Regions from separate parts of the Homo sapiens genome. Here region 2 is linked to region 1. Evidence: fine-mapped expression QTL. A gene starts in region 1. The other region holds a variant in brackets. All regions are shown on one strand. Distances are from middle to middle.

The links. PIP is the estimated chance that this variant, and not a neighbour inherited with it, causes the effect. A credible set is the group of variants that fine-mapping cannot tell apart.
Region 2: its variant is the best candidate, but not a certain one, in a credible set for the expression of FMOD in minor salivary gland (GTEx, PIP 0.87).

Annotation. Positions count from the first base shown.
Region 1 is chr1:203,347,650-203,355,981 of GRCh38, reverse strand. It overlaps FMOD (fibromodulin), which reads left to right and starts at 4,860. Exons shown (of 3, transcript NM_002023.5): 1 at 4,860-4,949; 2 at 7,705-8,332. The coding sequence starts at 7,712. It also overlaps the pseudogene LOC100131747.
Region 2 is chr1:203,110,837-203,119,168 of GRCh38, reverse strand. No RefSeq gene overlaps it. Among named protein-coding and RNA genes, the nearest start is that of ADORA1, 13 kb to the left of the region's middle. The variant C/A (reference allele first, on the strand shown) is at 4,769.

The sequences.
Region 1 (8,332 bases):
CCTTCTAGAAAGTGGTCTTCTGGGATCCATCATGTCATCATCATGTTAACAATATCAAGCATGCAGTAAACACACAGTAAAAATAAGAGATGCTATCCATTAAAAGAGAAAGGTTGTTCTCTACCTTCTTTTTAAGCAGCTTATTGCTAAAAGGAAATTATAAGCCCTCAGGCATCTTCTAGAACTTGGAAGTTGAGGTCTTTCTCCTATTGCAGTTCAAAGAAAACAAGTCTTTCTCCAGCTCCAACATCTTCATGGCTCTCATCCTTCTGGAAAGAGGACACTCTCCATGATGAGGACTTCTAATGGCCCTTTGGTGCCAAGGGAATAGGAGAAAATATCTCTCTTGGAAGCTTTGGGACACCATTGTTGGGTGCCAATGTAGCCAAGAATTTCCATTGAAACATCAGACTAGGAAAAACTCCCTCGCTGGCGTCAAGAGTTTTCAGGATGGGCCAGCAGCGGGGTCTGGATTATATAATATCGCCATGGTCATCTTTCTGCTGACCTCTGTATATTCAATTCAAGAAATCTGGTTGGGTGGGTTTTCAGTCACACCCTCTTGCCCTCCACCTTCCCTGAGTTATCTGGGATCAGAGGCTGGATCATAAAAACAAGGGTTGTTGAGTCTTGTGGGGGATGAAGAGGAAGAAAAGGGTTGGTGGCCACAAGAACGTCACTGTGTCTTTGCTGGTGGGAACTTGAGTCAGAAGGGACTTCATTTCTCCCAGACAGGGTGGGTCCAGCATCAGAGGCAATGAGCTTTGCCTAGTGATTGTGGCTTAACCTGTACTTTTCTGGGTAGGGAGGAAATAGCAGTGGCCTGAACCCCTGGAAAGTCTAAAGGTTTTCCTGGCCTGGTTGGTGGTGGTTTTTCCACCCAGCATTGAGTACTGAAGACAGACATACTCTGTGGGGAGCCAAAAATACAATTCCTTTCATAACCCTTTACTGATTGCCTACTAAGTGCCAACGCATTGTGTGCCCAGCTGGGACAGGGGCTACAGAAATGCATGACATTGCCTTTCTCTTTAGTTTATTTTCAGTCTAGTGACTGCATAGTGCTGGCTAGACACCCCCTAGAAGATACTGGTGTCCTCCTTCACATGTGGACTCCCTCAGCAAGCAATCTGGTGGACATCAATATCTCATTCTTGGCTTCCCATGTTGAAGGCAAGCTCTGAGGGCCTAGATCCAGGAACCAGGCAAACAAAGCAGCAGTGGCCAAAATGGAGGTAGAAACCTCCACTAAAGGTTAGAGAAAAGAACTTTTGAACAGTGGGTGGTTCCCTGAAACTCTGCCTTCTGACCTGGTCCCAATCATCCCTTCCATCCTTCCTTCATCCCAGGCCTGCCTTGGAACAGGATGGATAGCTAAAGACCTGGTGCACATCTCACCACTTTAGAAATGGCCAAAAAACCCCATGGAGATACTGTCTTTTTGGTGGTGCCCGGTTGGGAAGAATCCAGTCACTATTTGGTTCCCAGACTTTAGTAACTTTCATTGTTAGTAAATGCAGAATTAGTCAGCATGCTGGAATTTAAAAAAATAAACATCTGTACCCAATGGTGAATCTGTCCAGGCTATCTAGGCTCATTTAAAAGTGTTTCCCAGGCTCGGTTGCCAAGATCAGTGTCCTCCACTGAAAGGTGACTGCTTTCTGGACTCAAAAATGACTAGAAAGTTATCTGTGCATTATTCATAAGCATTTTCACAGTAAGGCCATTCTGCTTCACTCATGAGGTCAGAGTTTGCTACATTCAGATCTGCTTTATTATAATCAGGCATTATACCGAAGCCTTCTTTGTGTCTCCAACACTTAGGATCATGCCCAACACATAGTAGATGCTCAAATTTATTAAACGGAAATGAAATATGGGTGGGATGAGGAAGAGAACCCCTATACCCCAGCCCCATCTCACTTTAAAACCCCCCTGCCCCCAGATTCAGGCAGATTGGTCAATCGTAATTAATTAAGCTTCATCTTAGTCGAGGCCAGCCTGACAGCAGGGTAGTCATTGCCCCTCCACTTTGCCAATCCTCTGTGCTAGAGTTAGAGAAAAGTGTGTGGGCTTTCAAGTCATGTAGACCAAGGTTCAGATCCTTGTTTTGCCACTTACCAGCTAGTCACTTTATATCACTAAAACCCTAATTCCTTGGCTGAAAGCAGGGTCAAAAATAAAAAAAAAAAAATCCTGACAGAATGAGGTGACATAACAGAGGCAGGTCGGAGCCACTGCTGTCACCATGACCCGCAGTAACCAGCATGAGCTTACTGGCTAGAAAAATAGGAAAAAGCAGAGTGACTCAGTTAAGGGAAAACGTCGAGATGACGGGCTTTCTGCTGCTGCGGCAAGCAGAGGAGCTCAGAGACCAAGCAGCAGGAGCAGAAGAAGGCAAAAGAGAAGAAGGAGGAACCCGAGTAGCTTTGTGGCTTCATGTCCAACCCTCCTGCCCTTCGCCTATGTGACTGGAGCCAGTCCCACCACCCTCACGTTTCCTCCTGCAGTGCCCGCAGGTCCCCGCACCCATGGCCTCCTTTTGCCCTGAGTCTGCAGCGGGTCCCTTTTGTGCTTCCTTCCCCTCACGTAGCCTCTCTCCCCCTGGCCCCTCCTGGAAGTGGCGGGTGGGAGGTTACCCCTTCCCAGTGTTTTTTTATTCCTGTGGGGCTCACCCCAAAGTATTAAAAGTAGCTTTGAAAAAAAAACACTAATTCCAATGCAAAATATCTACTGTTATCTTTGATAACATAAGTAAACCACCTAGTCTATAGTAGGTGGTCAGAAAAGGCTCATTCATTAGGTTTCATCTTTTTGAAATCTCTTCTTAAATTCTGAGAATGGGTCCCTGACAAGGCCCTTTCTGACAGCCCACACGCTAAGTCAAAAGCTCAAACCTATTGGAGAAACCAAAAGGACCATCTGCCTCGACACTTCTAAATTCTTCAAATTCAAGTCATCTCAGGGTTTCTCAGTTGGTATTTTTTTAAGATAAAGGTGTTTCTTTGATGTTGGCATAAGCCAGTTAACATACTTGAGGAGAGAACATTTAGGACACATGAGTTTATCTAAGCTATTGAGATTCTGTGTGACCCACATTATAATGGTTCTCAAATGTTTTCTTCCAGCCCCTAAACTCCAGATTCAGATTCATATGTCCAACGGTCTACGTGCATCTCCAGGGGAATGCCTAGCAGGCATCTCTAACAGCATATCCAAAATGTAACTTTGGTTTTCTACCCAACTCAGTCCCACGTCACCTTTCCCATGTCAAGAAATGTTACCACCACCTACCCAGTTGCTCAAACTAAAATTCTAGGAATCATCCTTGACTTTTCCTAACTCTGCAAGACTTGTCAGTTCTCTGTCTAAAATATAAGATCTTCTCTTCCATTGCACCAGTCCAATCTGCCATTACCTCTCCTTGAGGCTGGGTTGGAGCCTCCCTGCTTCCACCCTGGCCTCCCCTTCTCCATACAGCAGCCCCTCCTACATGCTTTTAAAATGTAAATTAGATCCCATGCAAATCAGATCCCATGGCTTCTCCTGCTTGAAACATGTTTTTTTTTTTAAACATTTAGAATAGGCCGGACCGGATGACGCACGCCTGTAATCCCAGCACTTTGGGGCACTGAGGTGGGTGGATCACCTGTGTTTAGGAGTTCAAGACCAGCCTGACCAATATGATGAAACCCTGTCTCTACTAAAAATACAAAAAATTAGCTGGGCGTGGTGGCGTGTGCCTGTAGTCCCAGCTACCCAGGAGGCTGAGGCAGGAGAACGGCTTGAACCTGGGAGGCGGAGGTTGCAGAAAGCAGAGATTGTGCCACTGCACTCCAGCCTGGGCGACACAGCGAGACTCCTTTTCGATCTCCTGACCTCATGATCCTCCTGCCTCGGCCTCCCAAAGTGCTGGGATTACAGGCATGAGCCACCACGCCCAGCTGAGACTCCTTCTCAAACAAACAAACAACAACAACAACAACAAAAACATTTAGAATAAAAACCAAATCACTTCCATCGCCCAAAAGTCCTTTCATGGTACAGCTCCTGCCCAGCTTTCTGATCTTGTCTTTCCCTGGCTGAGGAATTCTATGGCTGTGAAATGGGTAGGACACAGTGAACCTCAGCTATGTGCCAGGTCAGGAGCCTCCCACACATCACCTGATACAGTCCTTGCTACAACCCAGCAAGGTAAGTGTTATTAACTCTGAATTTGTTGTGAGCATTAAGTGGAAGTGGATGATGCTAGTGCATAAGCAGTGATCAGCAAATGCTGGAGTCCCTGCCTTTCCTTTTGTTCCAGTGGTGGAGGTGGGCAGGACCTGTAGCCTAGAAAAGTCTACACTGCTTAGGGATAGAACTGGAACCAGAGCCGGCTGTCCCTTGTCATTCATGCTCCCTTATCCACTAGCCTGATGACCTGTCTATAGGGGGAGCTGAGAAGCGCGAGTTCTCGCTCTCTGGAGGGACATGTGGGTTGCTGAAGGAGTTAAGATGTCTCTTACCAAACCCTGGCCCTCCCCATCCCTGCATCTGCCTTTGTGGCTTTAATGAGAAATCCAGGCGCTTCATAAGAGACTGTACAAATAACTTCTAGGGCGCCACTAACTCATTCAGCAGAAAGGGACCCAGGGCTGCCAATGTTTCAGGGAAGATAAGTGAGTGGAAAAAAGGTGGTTTTTATAGCGTCAGGCGGACCGAAGGATTTGCGTGGTTGAGCGTGAACTCCGCCCCTGCAGCAGAGCTGAAAAAAACCAGGATCCGGGTTCCTCAGCCCCTTTTCACAATATTTGATTAGGAATTTGGGGCGGGACCCTGGTCTGGCACAGGCACGCACACTCTCAGTAGACTCTTTCACTCCTCTCTCTCTTCCTCTCTCACACGTTCTCCAACCCAAGGAGGCCAGACAGAGGGACGTGGTCACTCTCTGAAAAGTTCAACTTGAGGTAAGTATAGTCGTTTTACTTCGGGTTTGTCCCTAGCAGTTCCTTAAAAGAAATAAAGGAAAAGTGGTAGGGGATAGGGGAGATGGGGAGGCAGGGAGGGTTCATTCCTCCTTCTCCACATCTGGGCCATGACCCCAGGGATGCTGGAGAGTGGCAGAGAGGGTGTATAAGGGAGGGGTTCCAGCCCTGTACCTTTCTCTTACAGTTCCTTTATGGGTGCTGAGGGGACCTCCAATTCTCAGGCATGAAAAAGTGAAGGACCCTCTGTCTAGGGAAGCTTCTTCCCTGCTACTCATAAATCCCATCATGCTGGGAGTGTGGGCATTTTGAAGGGTATTCCAAGACCTGGATGTCCCTGCAATCTCTCTTATAGAGGGGTTTGGTACATAAATGCTATTATGGGAGAGGGGGAAACTTTTGTGTAGAATGTGTGTGTGTGTGTGTGTGTGTGTGTGTTTGGAGTGGAAAGGAGAGAATAAAAAGAAGCATTGAGAACTGGCCATGTCCAGGGAGCTGTGGATTGGGGTGGGGATGCAATCCAGGTGAGGGGATGGCCTCTGGCTTGACCTTCTCCACTGATAGGAGGGAGAGATCTTTCTCTAGAGTGGAGAAATGAAAGAACAGCAGTAGCTCCTGAGTAAACTTCCCCCAGCTGATAGTGTGGCAGTCCTGGAAACTTTCGACCTTACAGAAACTCTGAGCACAGGAGGGCCTCTAGCATTATGGGAAACAGTGTAAGACTATGCAACCCTGAAGCAACATTGCTAAGAGATGGGATGGGGTAAGGAGAGGCATAAGCTCCCCATCAAACCCTTTCAGCACCCATGGCTCTAAGAAGAGGCTGAAGTGGGCAGGGTGCACAGCCCCTAGAAAGCTGAGTCTGAAGGGGAAGGTGGCTCTTGTCTGCCAAGGTGCCCAGTCTGAAAGAAGGAGAAACGGAGACAGAGGCTCACTGTGCCAGCCCTCCAGACAGCCACCTTGGTCCTGCAACAGCCCAGGGCTGTGCATGGAAAAATGCTCTGTTGGCAGTGGGCCGCTCCATTCGTCTTCTCTCCTGGCCAGAGCCAGGAACCAGCCAGCTTGCCCAGGCAGTGGGCAGTTGGGTCAGCTTCTCCAAAACACTGTGGCTCTTTGTCTGAGGCCTGAGGCTGCCTGTGGATGAGCCAGGGTGCCTGCTCCTCTGCAACCTAGGAACTGATGGGATGAAGTGGGCCCAAGGAAACTGTTTTGAGGGGACAGAGAGGTCTGGGATGGATGGTGGTCAGGAGGTAACTCTGTTGAGTGTCATAGTTGGGGTCTTTCCCATCAGTTCACTGGATCTGATGATGTTGGCTTTTATACTCCTTTCTTTCTTCTGTTTACAGTTGCCAACCCCAGTAGGCCCAACAGCAATGTGAGGGCTGTATGTGACTCTTCCAGGCCAAGAAAGATTCTAAGGTTTCTCTGTCCAAGGGTGACACTCAGGAAGATGCCCACTGCTCACAGGAGTATGTCATGCATTGGCTATAGGTAACCAGGGTAGGGTACCCAGGCCACCCCTAGTCTCTTACCTTCCATACCTTTAGTTTCCCTCTCAGATGACATCAGACCCACATTTCCTCTTCAGTCTGCCCTGTTCCTATCTCATTAGCACAACAGGTTCAAAAGCAACAGGTTTCCAGCAATGTGGGGACCTAGACACAGAGCCTGGTCATCTAGGTGTCATCGCTGGGAGCAGGTAGCTTGGGAAAGGAGAGGAGAATGTCAGGGTCCTACCTCAAGCTGCTTTCCCTTGAGCATACACAAGAGTTTCCAATCTCTAGCTATTCTTTTGGTGTCCCTCATTCATTTCTCTTGGCCCCACATGGCTCTTGCATGATGCCCATGGTGGAGCATGAGGAGTGCTAACACCTTACTAGGCACCATGGAAGAGAGAAGCAGATTAACTCAGACTTCACACACTGAGTACCTGCTTTAGAAGGCAAGTGCCACACCCAGTGCCAGGGTCCTCAGTCTGGAAAGGATTTGTAACTGCTGCATGAAGACCCTGTCCCAGCCAAGTTGCATGTGTAGCCACAAACTGCTAACCAGTGAGTTTCCTCACTCAGCAGACTGTTACAGATGATGGCACTTTGGAGGGCAACCTGAGCCTTGTGGTGGCTGCAGAGGGACCACACTCCTCCCCAAACACTCAAGACCAAAAACTCCCAGCCTGCCCAAGAGACCAAAAGATTTTCCAGATGTAGTTCAGCTCTTCCCCTTCGATGCGTCAAGCGGCTTCTGGAGGTCTCCCATCCTAGGGCTTTCTCCTTGGACTCTTAGAAAAATACTATTTCCCCGGAACATCCAAACTGGATTTGGGTTCAGATCTGAAGAGCATCCCACTACCATCCTTACCACCACACCACAAACACAGGGATTGCTGTGGGCTTTTCAGCTTTCCCACAGGACTTTCAGAGTGCTAGAGGCTCCTAAGAATCTGCCCCTCCAAAAAAAAAATGCAGCTGTTCCCATTCAAAGACATTCTGTCTGTGACTCTATGACCAGGGGAAAATGCACTTAGCTCACCCCAAATAGCCATGGTCCGGCTGGACCAAGTGCAGAACCAGACTGGGAGGAGGCACCGAAGAAATGAGAGCAAGGCTCCTGCTCTCAGATGTTTGACATGGAAGTCAGCTCTGCATAGCTCAAAGCCTAAGGCTTGCCTACTCTGCCTCACTGCCTCTGTGGAGTCTCACTCATGCTGGCTTGCTCTGTTCTCTCCCGCTTCTTGCAGAGACAAAATGCAGTGGACCTCCCTCCTGCTGCTGGCAGGGCTCTTCTCCCTCTCCCAGGCCCAGTATGAAGATGACCCTCATTGGTGGTTCCACTACCTCCGCAGCCAGCAGTCCACCTACTACGATCCCTATGACCCTTACCCGTATGAGACCTACGAGCCTTACCCCTATGGGGTGGATGAAGGGCCAGCCTACACCTACGGCTCTCCATCCCCTCCAGATCCCCGCGACTGCCCCCAGGAGTGCGACTGCCCACCCAACTTCCCCACGGCCATGTACTGTGACAATCGCAACCTCAAGTACCTGCCCTTCGTTCCCTCCCGCATGAAGTATGTGTACTTCCAGAACAACCAGATCACCTCCATCCAGGAAGGCGTCTTTGACAATGCCACAGGGCTGCTCTGGATTGCTCTCCACGGCAACCAGATCACCAGTGATAAGGTGGGCAGGAAGGTCTTCTCCAAGCTGAGGCACCTGGAGAGGCTGTACCTGGACCACAACAACCTGACCCGGATGCCCGGTCCCCTGCCTCGATCCCTGAGAGAGCTCCATCTCGACCACAACCAGATCTCACGGGTCCCCAACAATGCTCTGGAGGGGCTGGAGAACCTCACGGCCTTGTACCTC
Region 2 (8,332 bases), 240 kb after region 1:
CTGATTTCCACTCCAAGGTTCTTTCCAGTTCATCACAATAGCCCACTCAGAGAGTCTGCAGCCCACTGAGGGAACGAAACAGAAGGAACTGAAAAGCAACATCTTCCACGTGAACCATCACCTCATCCTTCTGAAGTCCTAACTAGGTGCTTCATGGACCATGTCCTGGGGTGTAAGGGCTGAGACTGAAGCCAGAGGCTTCATGGAAGGAACGAGTTTTTGCTCCACTCAGTAAAAAGCTAACTGGGATGAAATGGCCCCTGTCCTCAGCCAGTATCCCTGGGTCCCCTGAGAGCCTGCAGGAGAGCCCACCATGTACACATTCTCATAGTTATTTCTCTGAGTGAAGCCCCTCCCAGCAGCGATGGAAGCCAGGTGTGGAAACACTAGGCATTCACTCATTATACTCAGGAATCAGAACTGGTCACAGAGGCTTGGCCACTGATTCCGGCTTCAGCCCATTCCCTCAGCTCCAGTCTTATCCTGGCCCCAACTCCCTGATGTTAAGCAGAACTCAAAGTGCTAGTCTAGAATCATTCCCTTCAGATCTGCCTCACCCCCTCTGCCCTGAACCCTGTCACCAGCGAGCACTGGGCATGGAAGGAAGGGAATTTGCGCTAAGTGCACGTTCCTCAGGTCGGGATAAAGAGGTAGTGGATGGCCTGGGCTCCCTGGTCCTCTGTGGGCTCATCCCAAAGTCCTACCTTCCACACCAGAAAAGCAAACAGCAGCTTGCTAGAGGGGTCCACTCTACAGTTAAAAGCCACTCACTCCATCTGGCTCGTCAAGTGGGGTGGGAGACACAGAGGAGCCCTTCACTTACTGAGCTTTTCTATTTCAATCACTATCCCCGGCCCGAGTTGGACAGACTTCATCCAGGGCTTAAAATAGCTCCCGGGGCATAGAGCTCAAGAAACATTGACTGAATGTTCAATGTTCAAAATAATACACTTCAAGAGTACAAGAAGGAAGTCTCACAACGCTTTATGGTTTAGAATTATTTAACTATCATAGCATTGCCGGTGAAATAAGTATAATCATTTTCCCATTTCTCAGAGGAGGAAACTGAGGCTGGGGGGAGGGAGGTGGGGAAGGTGGATCGGCTGAGCAGCGGGATCTAGAGCCAGAAGCAGCCGCCCAGCTCAGGGCTGTTGTCCGGGGCTCGGGGTCCCCCTGCTGGCCTAACGGAAGCCTGGGCGTGGGCGAGGAGCTGGGCAGGGCCAGACCCCAGTCCCGCAGCCTGAGTTCCCTGCTCCGCCGCGCTAGGTGCTGGGTTCCCGCGGAAGGGAGAAGAAGGAGGAGCCATAGCTGGGCTCAGCATTATAGCGCCTGGCGGAGCACTGCGCAAGGCTTCAGCTGAGATGCTTCACCCGACATCATGGGCCAGAACAGACGAAACAGGCAGCGCCTCAGCTCCCCACCTGCCCGAGCCTCTCCTGAGCTCACCTGCAGAAAGGCCAAAAGGGACGGCGCCTAAGAAGGCCCAGCAGACCCGCTCCCTTGGAGGGAAGAGACAGATTCGCTCTCCTGACGTCCAGTCCAAAGTGCTTTGTTCCCATAGCATTGTCTCCTCCCGTTTCCAGGCAAATCTAACCCAGCCCCAAGAGAACACTTCCCTCCTCTCTGGATCTTGTTGCCCAGGCTGGAATGCAATGGCGTGGTCTTGGCTCACTGCAACCTTCGCCTCCCGGGTTCAAGCGATTCTCCTGCCTCAGCCTCCCAAATAACTGGTATTACAGGTGCCTGCCACCACGCCTAGCTAATGTTCTATTTTTGGTAGAGACGGGGTTTCACCACGTTGGCCAGGCTGGTCTTGAACTCCTGACCTAAGGTGATCCACCCGCCTCGGCCTCCCAAAGTGCTGGGGTTACAGGCGTGAGTCACCGGGCCCGGGCTTCCAGCTCCTTTACTTTCACCCCACTTCATCTGGCTGCTCTACAATTCCCACAGTGAGGAGGGCTAACTTAGACCCATCCACCACGTCCAGAAGTTACCCCTTGTTGGGGGACGGCTGGCCCTCGACTGGGCATGGAACTCTCTGTTATTTCAATACTCCTCAAAGGTTTTAAGTTTGGTCTCTAGTGCCAAAAAATCTGGCATGAAATCTCACTTATGTCTCTTCTTAGTGTGTGACTTTGTGCACATTACTGAACCAAGAAGCCTCCGTTTTCTCATCTGTAAAATAGAAATTATAATACTTTCCTAATGGGCTGTTGGGAGGATTCAGTGATACATTATACAATCAACAGCACTGTGCCTTGCATTACAGCGAGTGTTTGGTAAATGCTAATAATGATCATTACCTTTCCTACCCTAACACCTAACTAAAGAGAATGGGGTGAAGGGTACATGGGCAGGTAGTTCTGGAGAGAAAAGTGCAGTGCCCCATCACGTGCTTGAGTCTTCTCCAACCTGGCCACCTCCTTGCGTTCCCACCCCCTATCTGCAAGGGGGTGGGTGGCAGCTGCGTCCCTCCCCTGCCCATGCCCTGACAGTGCCAAAGGGCTGGCACAGCTGCTGCAATGGCCCAAATGCCTCAGGTTAGGGCTAGGTAGGGGACAGCTGGGGGTAAAGGAGACGTGAGAGGAGGCAGAGCAGGGGCACCCTTCTCTACCAGCATGTCCACTCACCCTGCAGCTTCCTAAGCCTCTCAGGTCAGCCAGGGACCTCTGACCTCACTCCTGTCCAGCCTGAGGGGGTTTCCCCCTCTTTCCCTCTCTTGTTCTCTGGCCTCTAGTACCTCCTCCTCCATGGCTGGACCCACCCAGTCTCCCAGCCCCGTTGCCCAACTCCCTCTCCTGCCCACATGCTGCCCAGCTGTCGCTGCCCCTGAGCTGGCACTCTGCCCACCTGCACCACTCATGAATCGCCAGCATTCACACTCTGACCCTGGAACCTCCACCTGTTCCCCTCGGTCTGAGCAGCAGGGCTGTGTGGCCCCATCTGTTGTCCTCCAGCCAGGACTCAGTGCAAGGGACTACACTTCAACCCCCGCCAACTTCCACCTGCCAGGAGAGGGCGGGAAGGACTGGCTGGGATGATGCCTGATTTGGGGGGCTCCTTATCTCCTGGAAGAGCAGGCCTTGTTCTCCCCTGCCCCAGGCCCACCAGCACTGTCTTAAAAGACCAACATTACAACTGAAAAAGCAAAAAGCCCACACTTCCCAAAGGACATTTGCATATTTAATAGCATTCTCCTATTACATTTCACTTGTTGATGGCAAGCCCCTAAATCAGAAGCTGGTCAGTGCAAGATGGTAAGCAGAAAGACACAACAGTGGCAACATTTTCAATTAATGTTTCATTATACAAACAATATGTGAATGCGCTTTCCTTGATAAAAAAGTGAAACCACTGTAGTTCAGGCTCAAATTCCATTTAACCAGTTCCCTAAATCAAGACCCTTTCATCTAAACGCAGAGGTGACCATTGTTACCAGTTTGATGTGTATATTTCCAGGAATTTTTCTATGTATTTGCATAATATAAGTGTGTGTGTATATGTACATTTACACACAAGTATGTTTACATTACATATAAATAAGAGTATGTATATACCCCTATACACACATTTATATATGCAAATATATATATATTCAAAAAAAATGTAGTACTATCATGGGTTTGGGTTTTGTTATTTTTTACATGAATTGTAAACTACAAATATTCTGCAGCTAGATTCACTAAAAAAGTCTTATCAAGTCAGTACATCTAGCTCTGCAATCTCTAAATGATACATAATTCTAGCATAAACACATCATAGTTTGTTTAGCCATTTCCCTATTGATAGGCATTTGTGTCTCATTTTCTCCCACTACAAATAAACATGTCCCTGTCACAGATTTTAGCCTTCTCCAATTTGGTCTTACCTGGTCCCACCTGGTCCTGTGTTCCTACCTCTTGTGAACAAAAAGATTTATCATTTAATTCTTTTTAAGGGCACAAATGTAACAAAAGTGTCCTTGGGAACATTTTATTACAAATTTTTAGTAATTTTTCTCAAAACCCTAGGTCCCACTATGATGATTTCTGTATCCACTCAGAAGCAAATTATTGCTGTAGGAGAGAGAGCTGCAGTCAAGGAGGCAGAAGGAGATACAAGAAAAAAAAGTGAAGAGAGAAAAAGGTAAAAAAAAAAAGGGAACAGAAGGAGCAAGAAAGAGAAAGAAGTAAAAGAACATGCTTATTTATTACAGCACTCTCTGCAACAGGGAAAAACTGGAACTGTCCAACAGAAAGGAAACAGTTAAGTAAAACTTGGCATATCCATTCAATGGAATATTACTCAGCCATTACAATAATAATTGTGAAGATTATGCAGGAGCATGGAAAATGCTTCTGATATTAAGTTACAAAGTAGACTACAAAATTAAAACTACATTATGATGACAACTATGCAAAATGATGTGGGCATACAGACATGGGAAGGCAATATAGACAAATGAAACCAATCTGATTTGTTGGAGTAGCAGAATTGTGGGGGCACTATTATTTACTTACTTCCATTAATATTGCTATAATATGGTTTGTGCAATATATGATTAATGCCAAAGTGAAACAGCAATGGAAAGAAGGCAGGAAAGGAAAGTGAATAAAACAGAAAGAGGGAAAAGGGAGGAAGGGAAGAAGGGCGTGAAGGAAGGAATGAGAGGAGAGGGTTGAAGAAGGGAGATGAGAAGAAGGAGGTTGGCGTCAAGCCTACGTTTGAGGGCTGGGCTGTCTTCAGCAGATCTGTCAGTCACAGGGTCGATGCAGGCTTTTCTTCCAGA[C/A]CCTTTGGATCGACAACAGTTTTCACTGTTCATAGAAGATGGGATCTCCCTCCTCCTTCCCTCTTGTATTCTTTGAAGCCTGCCAAGGAGCTAGGGATACCGAGCTCAGGACTGTGCTCTTCAGGGACTGAAAATCTAGTCAGGTGGGGAGAGATGGAGGCATAGATACGTGAGCAAACTATGACAGCCAGCCCACAAATGCTCAAATAGAGATCTAATCCTCTAAAGGTGGAGGCTGTAGGGTCCCAGAAGTCTTCACAGATCAAAGGACATTTGAGCTGGGGCTCAAAGGATGGACAGGAGATTTCCAGGCAGAGAAAAGGCAGTGACATCCTAGGTAAAAGGCACACGTGCAGAGGAACTGGGGCCTAAATACACACCCATACCACGTACACTACCATTCATATGGCTAGACACAGGGCTCAGGAAAGACAGAGACAAGAGATGATGCCTTGACTTTATCCCCAGGGCAATGAGAAGCACTGAAGGGTTTAATCAGAGCAAAGGCACACTCTGATTTGTCCTTTAGAGAGATAACCCTCAAGACAATGAGGAAAGTGAGTGGGAATAGGGCAAAGTGGAGAGAGGGAACATCAGTTAGGAAGTTACTGTAAGAGTTCTGTTGAGAAGAGTAGGACCCTATGTTGGGCAGTCAATGGGGTGAGGGGAGAAGGATAACTCAAGAAATTCTTAGGTAGAAACGACAGAACTTCATTCGTTCATTCATTCAGCCAGTGTCTTTGGAGGGCCTGCTATGGAATTGGGTATTCAGAGATCAAAGAGAGTCTGTGTCCTAACAGGGAAGACAGAGGGTTACAGATCAATGTGAAAATAGCTATGATTGAGATAAGCCAATGGGGCTGCGGCCGTGAGACCAGGAATTGATGGGCTGTGGGAAGGGAGGAAGGTCTCATATGACTTCTAAGTTTCTGCCTCCCATGGTGAGTGAAGAGTGGAGCCATCCACAGAGACAGGAGGCACAGAGTAAGGCCATGTCCAGCACATGTCTAGAGGCAGATAATAATTTTTATTTGGGCCTCTCACTCTTCCTTTGCTCCTGACCCATTCAAAAAAGGCAAATGTAGCTTAAGGAGCTTGTTGCCTTCCCGACAGAATGAATTACATGAAAAGCACCTAGAATAGTGCCTGACACATAGTAAATGCTCAACAAATATTAACAAAGAAAACAAGAAAAATTCAGAAACGTAAAGCAAGGTTCATACTTAGGAAGGTGCCTCTCTCCCTTCCTCCATGAGACCAGGGAGGAACATGCGACTCCTGGCCCTGAAAGGCAGGTCACAGGAGACTTGACAAAACGAGAACGTAACCAAAACTAAGAAGAGCTTGTTAAAAAGAGAGTGTGGCTATAAACATGCAAAAACTGAGCTCACTGCTAGCAGATAGGACACCTGCAATGAGGGGAGAGATGGGGGAAGAGGGGTCTCAGCAGTTTCTTCCCATGCAAAGAGTTTGCACCATATTATTCATTTGAAGAGTATAAACTGTGCACATTGCAAATCACGTTCATTGCATCATATCATAAAGGAAGCCACCAAAATTGTGAAGTTTTTTGTTGTTGTTGTTCTCATGCTTCAACTATTGTGTTTACTGAAATTTTGGAAGATGAAGCAGAGTGTGGAGACATTGTTTATGTTGATGCTGTTGGGTGGTGTAGTCATGGAAACTTGTTAGAAATATTTACTGAACTAATTCCCCAGATGAAGGACCATGGAGAATTAAAAGGCTTTGAAGGCCCCAACACATCAGACCTCAGGTCTTACTGATGTGACAAGACTTGTAAACACTCTAATCTTGTTTGAAACAATGTCGATGTCCGGGTTGAACTTAAGCTGCCCACATGGACAAGGTGACTGACTACTGGAACCTGCTTTCATTTCTTACTGTTTGACTATTCTGAGCACAATAAAATCACTAATCATAAAGAAATGCAGGCCAGGCACGGTGGCTCATGCCTGTAATTGCAATGCTTTGCGAAGCCAGGGCAGGAGGATCACTTGAGGCCAGGAGTTCAAGACCAGCCTGAGCAACATAGGCCTTGTTTCTACAAAAAAATTTAAAAATTAGCTGGGCATGGTGGTGTGTGCTTGTAGTTCCAGCTACTCGGGAGCCTGAGGCAGAAGGATTGCTTGAACCCAGGAATTCAAGGCTGCAATGAGCTACGATTGTGCCACTGCACCCCAGCCTAGGTGGCAGAGTGAGACCGTCTTTAAAAAAAAAAAAAAGAAAGAAAGAAAAGAAAAGAAAGCAATGCAATGAATGCAATGCTATGTGATGGACATAAAGTCATATTTTAGGATAAATTCTCAGGTTTTGTTAAGTCTGAATCTTGCTCTAAGTTTCTGTATGCTTACCTTTTTGAAGTTCACCTCTGTGTTCCAGGTACATTCCAGGTGTTTCACACGTACTCATGCATTCAAGCCTTACAACAAACCTGCGGGATAGTTTCTAGTATTATCCCCATTTCACAAATGAGAAAACTGAGGCACAGGGAAGAGGCAACCACTTTTAAGTGGGGGAGCCTAGACTCCAAGTCTGGTAGTCTGGCTTGAGTGCTCTTAACCACTTTATGTATAAACTTGAGAATGTATTTATAATAAATAACCAGGCTTCCTCCCTATCAGTGGGGTCTCATTTCCAGGGAACTTACTAAGCTGAAAGTGAATTACGCTCACCAAGAAGACTCAGTTTTCCTAGAATTTTACAAAGCACTGGATAAATCCCAGAGCCCGAAATGTCGTAGTGGTCAGTGGTCTAACATTGGGAATGTTTGGGTCCATTTTCTCTTTTTTCATGAAGCGATTGGGATCAGCACTGAGAACCATCACAGTGATGAAAATGTGGGACATGTATTGAGATGTACCCCGACTAAGCACACTCCATGGCGCCATTTGTTAAGTACCTGTCCTTGTGGACTTCACTGATGTTCTCAAAATTGACCCACATCTAGCATGGGCCAGTAAGAGTGCATGTTTACATAAATTGTGTTAATTCAACTGCTTTTGTACTGTTGTTAACAAACCATAAATTTGTTCAGCTAGCTTCACTAATATAGAAAACTATATTGTTTTCAAACATTACAGACTTCAGTTATGAAGTATAGTGGAGTAGTTTACTGATTAGTTCTCTCAGTAAAGACAACAACAAATATTCAGACAAAAGATTTAAAACCTCTTTGTAAATGCATTAATAAACTGGAAAAGAATGAAAGGTAAATTCAAAAGCCTAAAATCATGAGAAGCAGGCACCCAGAGAGGTAAGCCTTATACTGATGTCAGCCTTTACATTGAGCTTCAATTTCCACAAACCGAGGGGGCTTGTCAACAGTGGGAAGTCCAGTAGGGGACCATACCCCCAGCATCAACCCATAAACCTGAAACCCAAAGGCTACAATTCAGTCTAATGGTGAATTCAAAATAAATCAGTGCCCCACCTGCCTGCCTTAAACCTGACACTGAATAGAAGGGAGAAAAACATCTCCCCTGAAAATTAACAACTACCAGCTAGCCCTTATGTAGCTTTGCTGTACAAATTCACACTATCTTG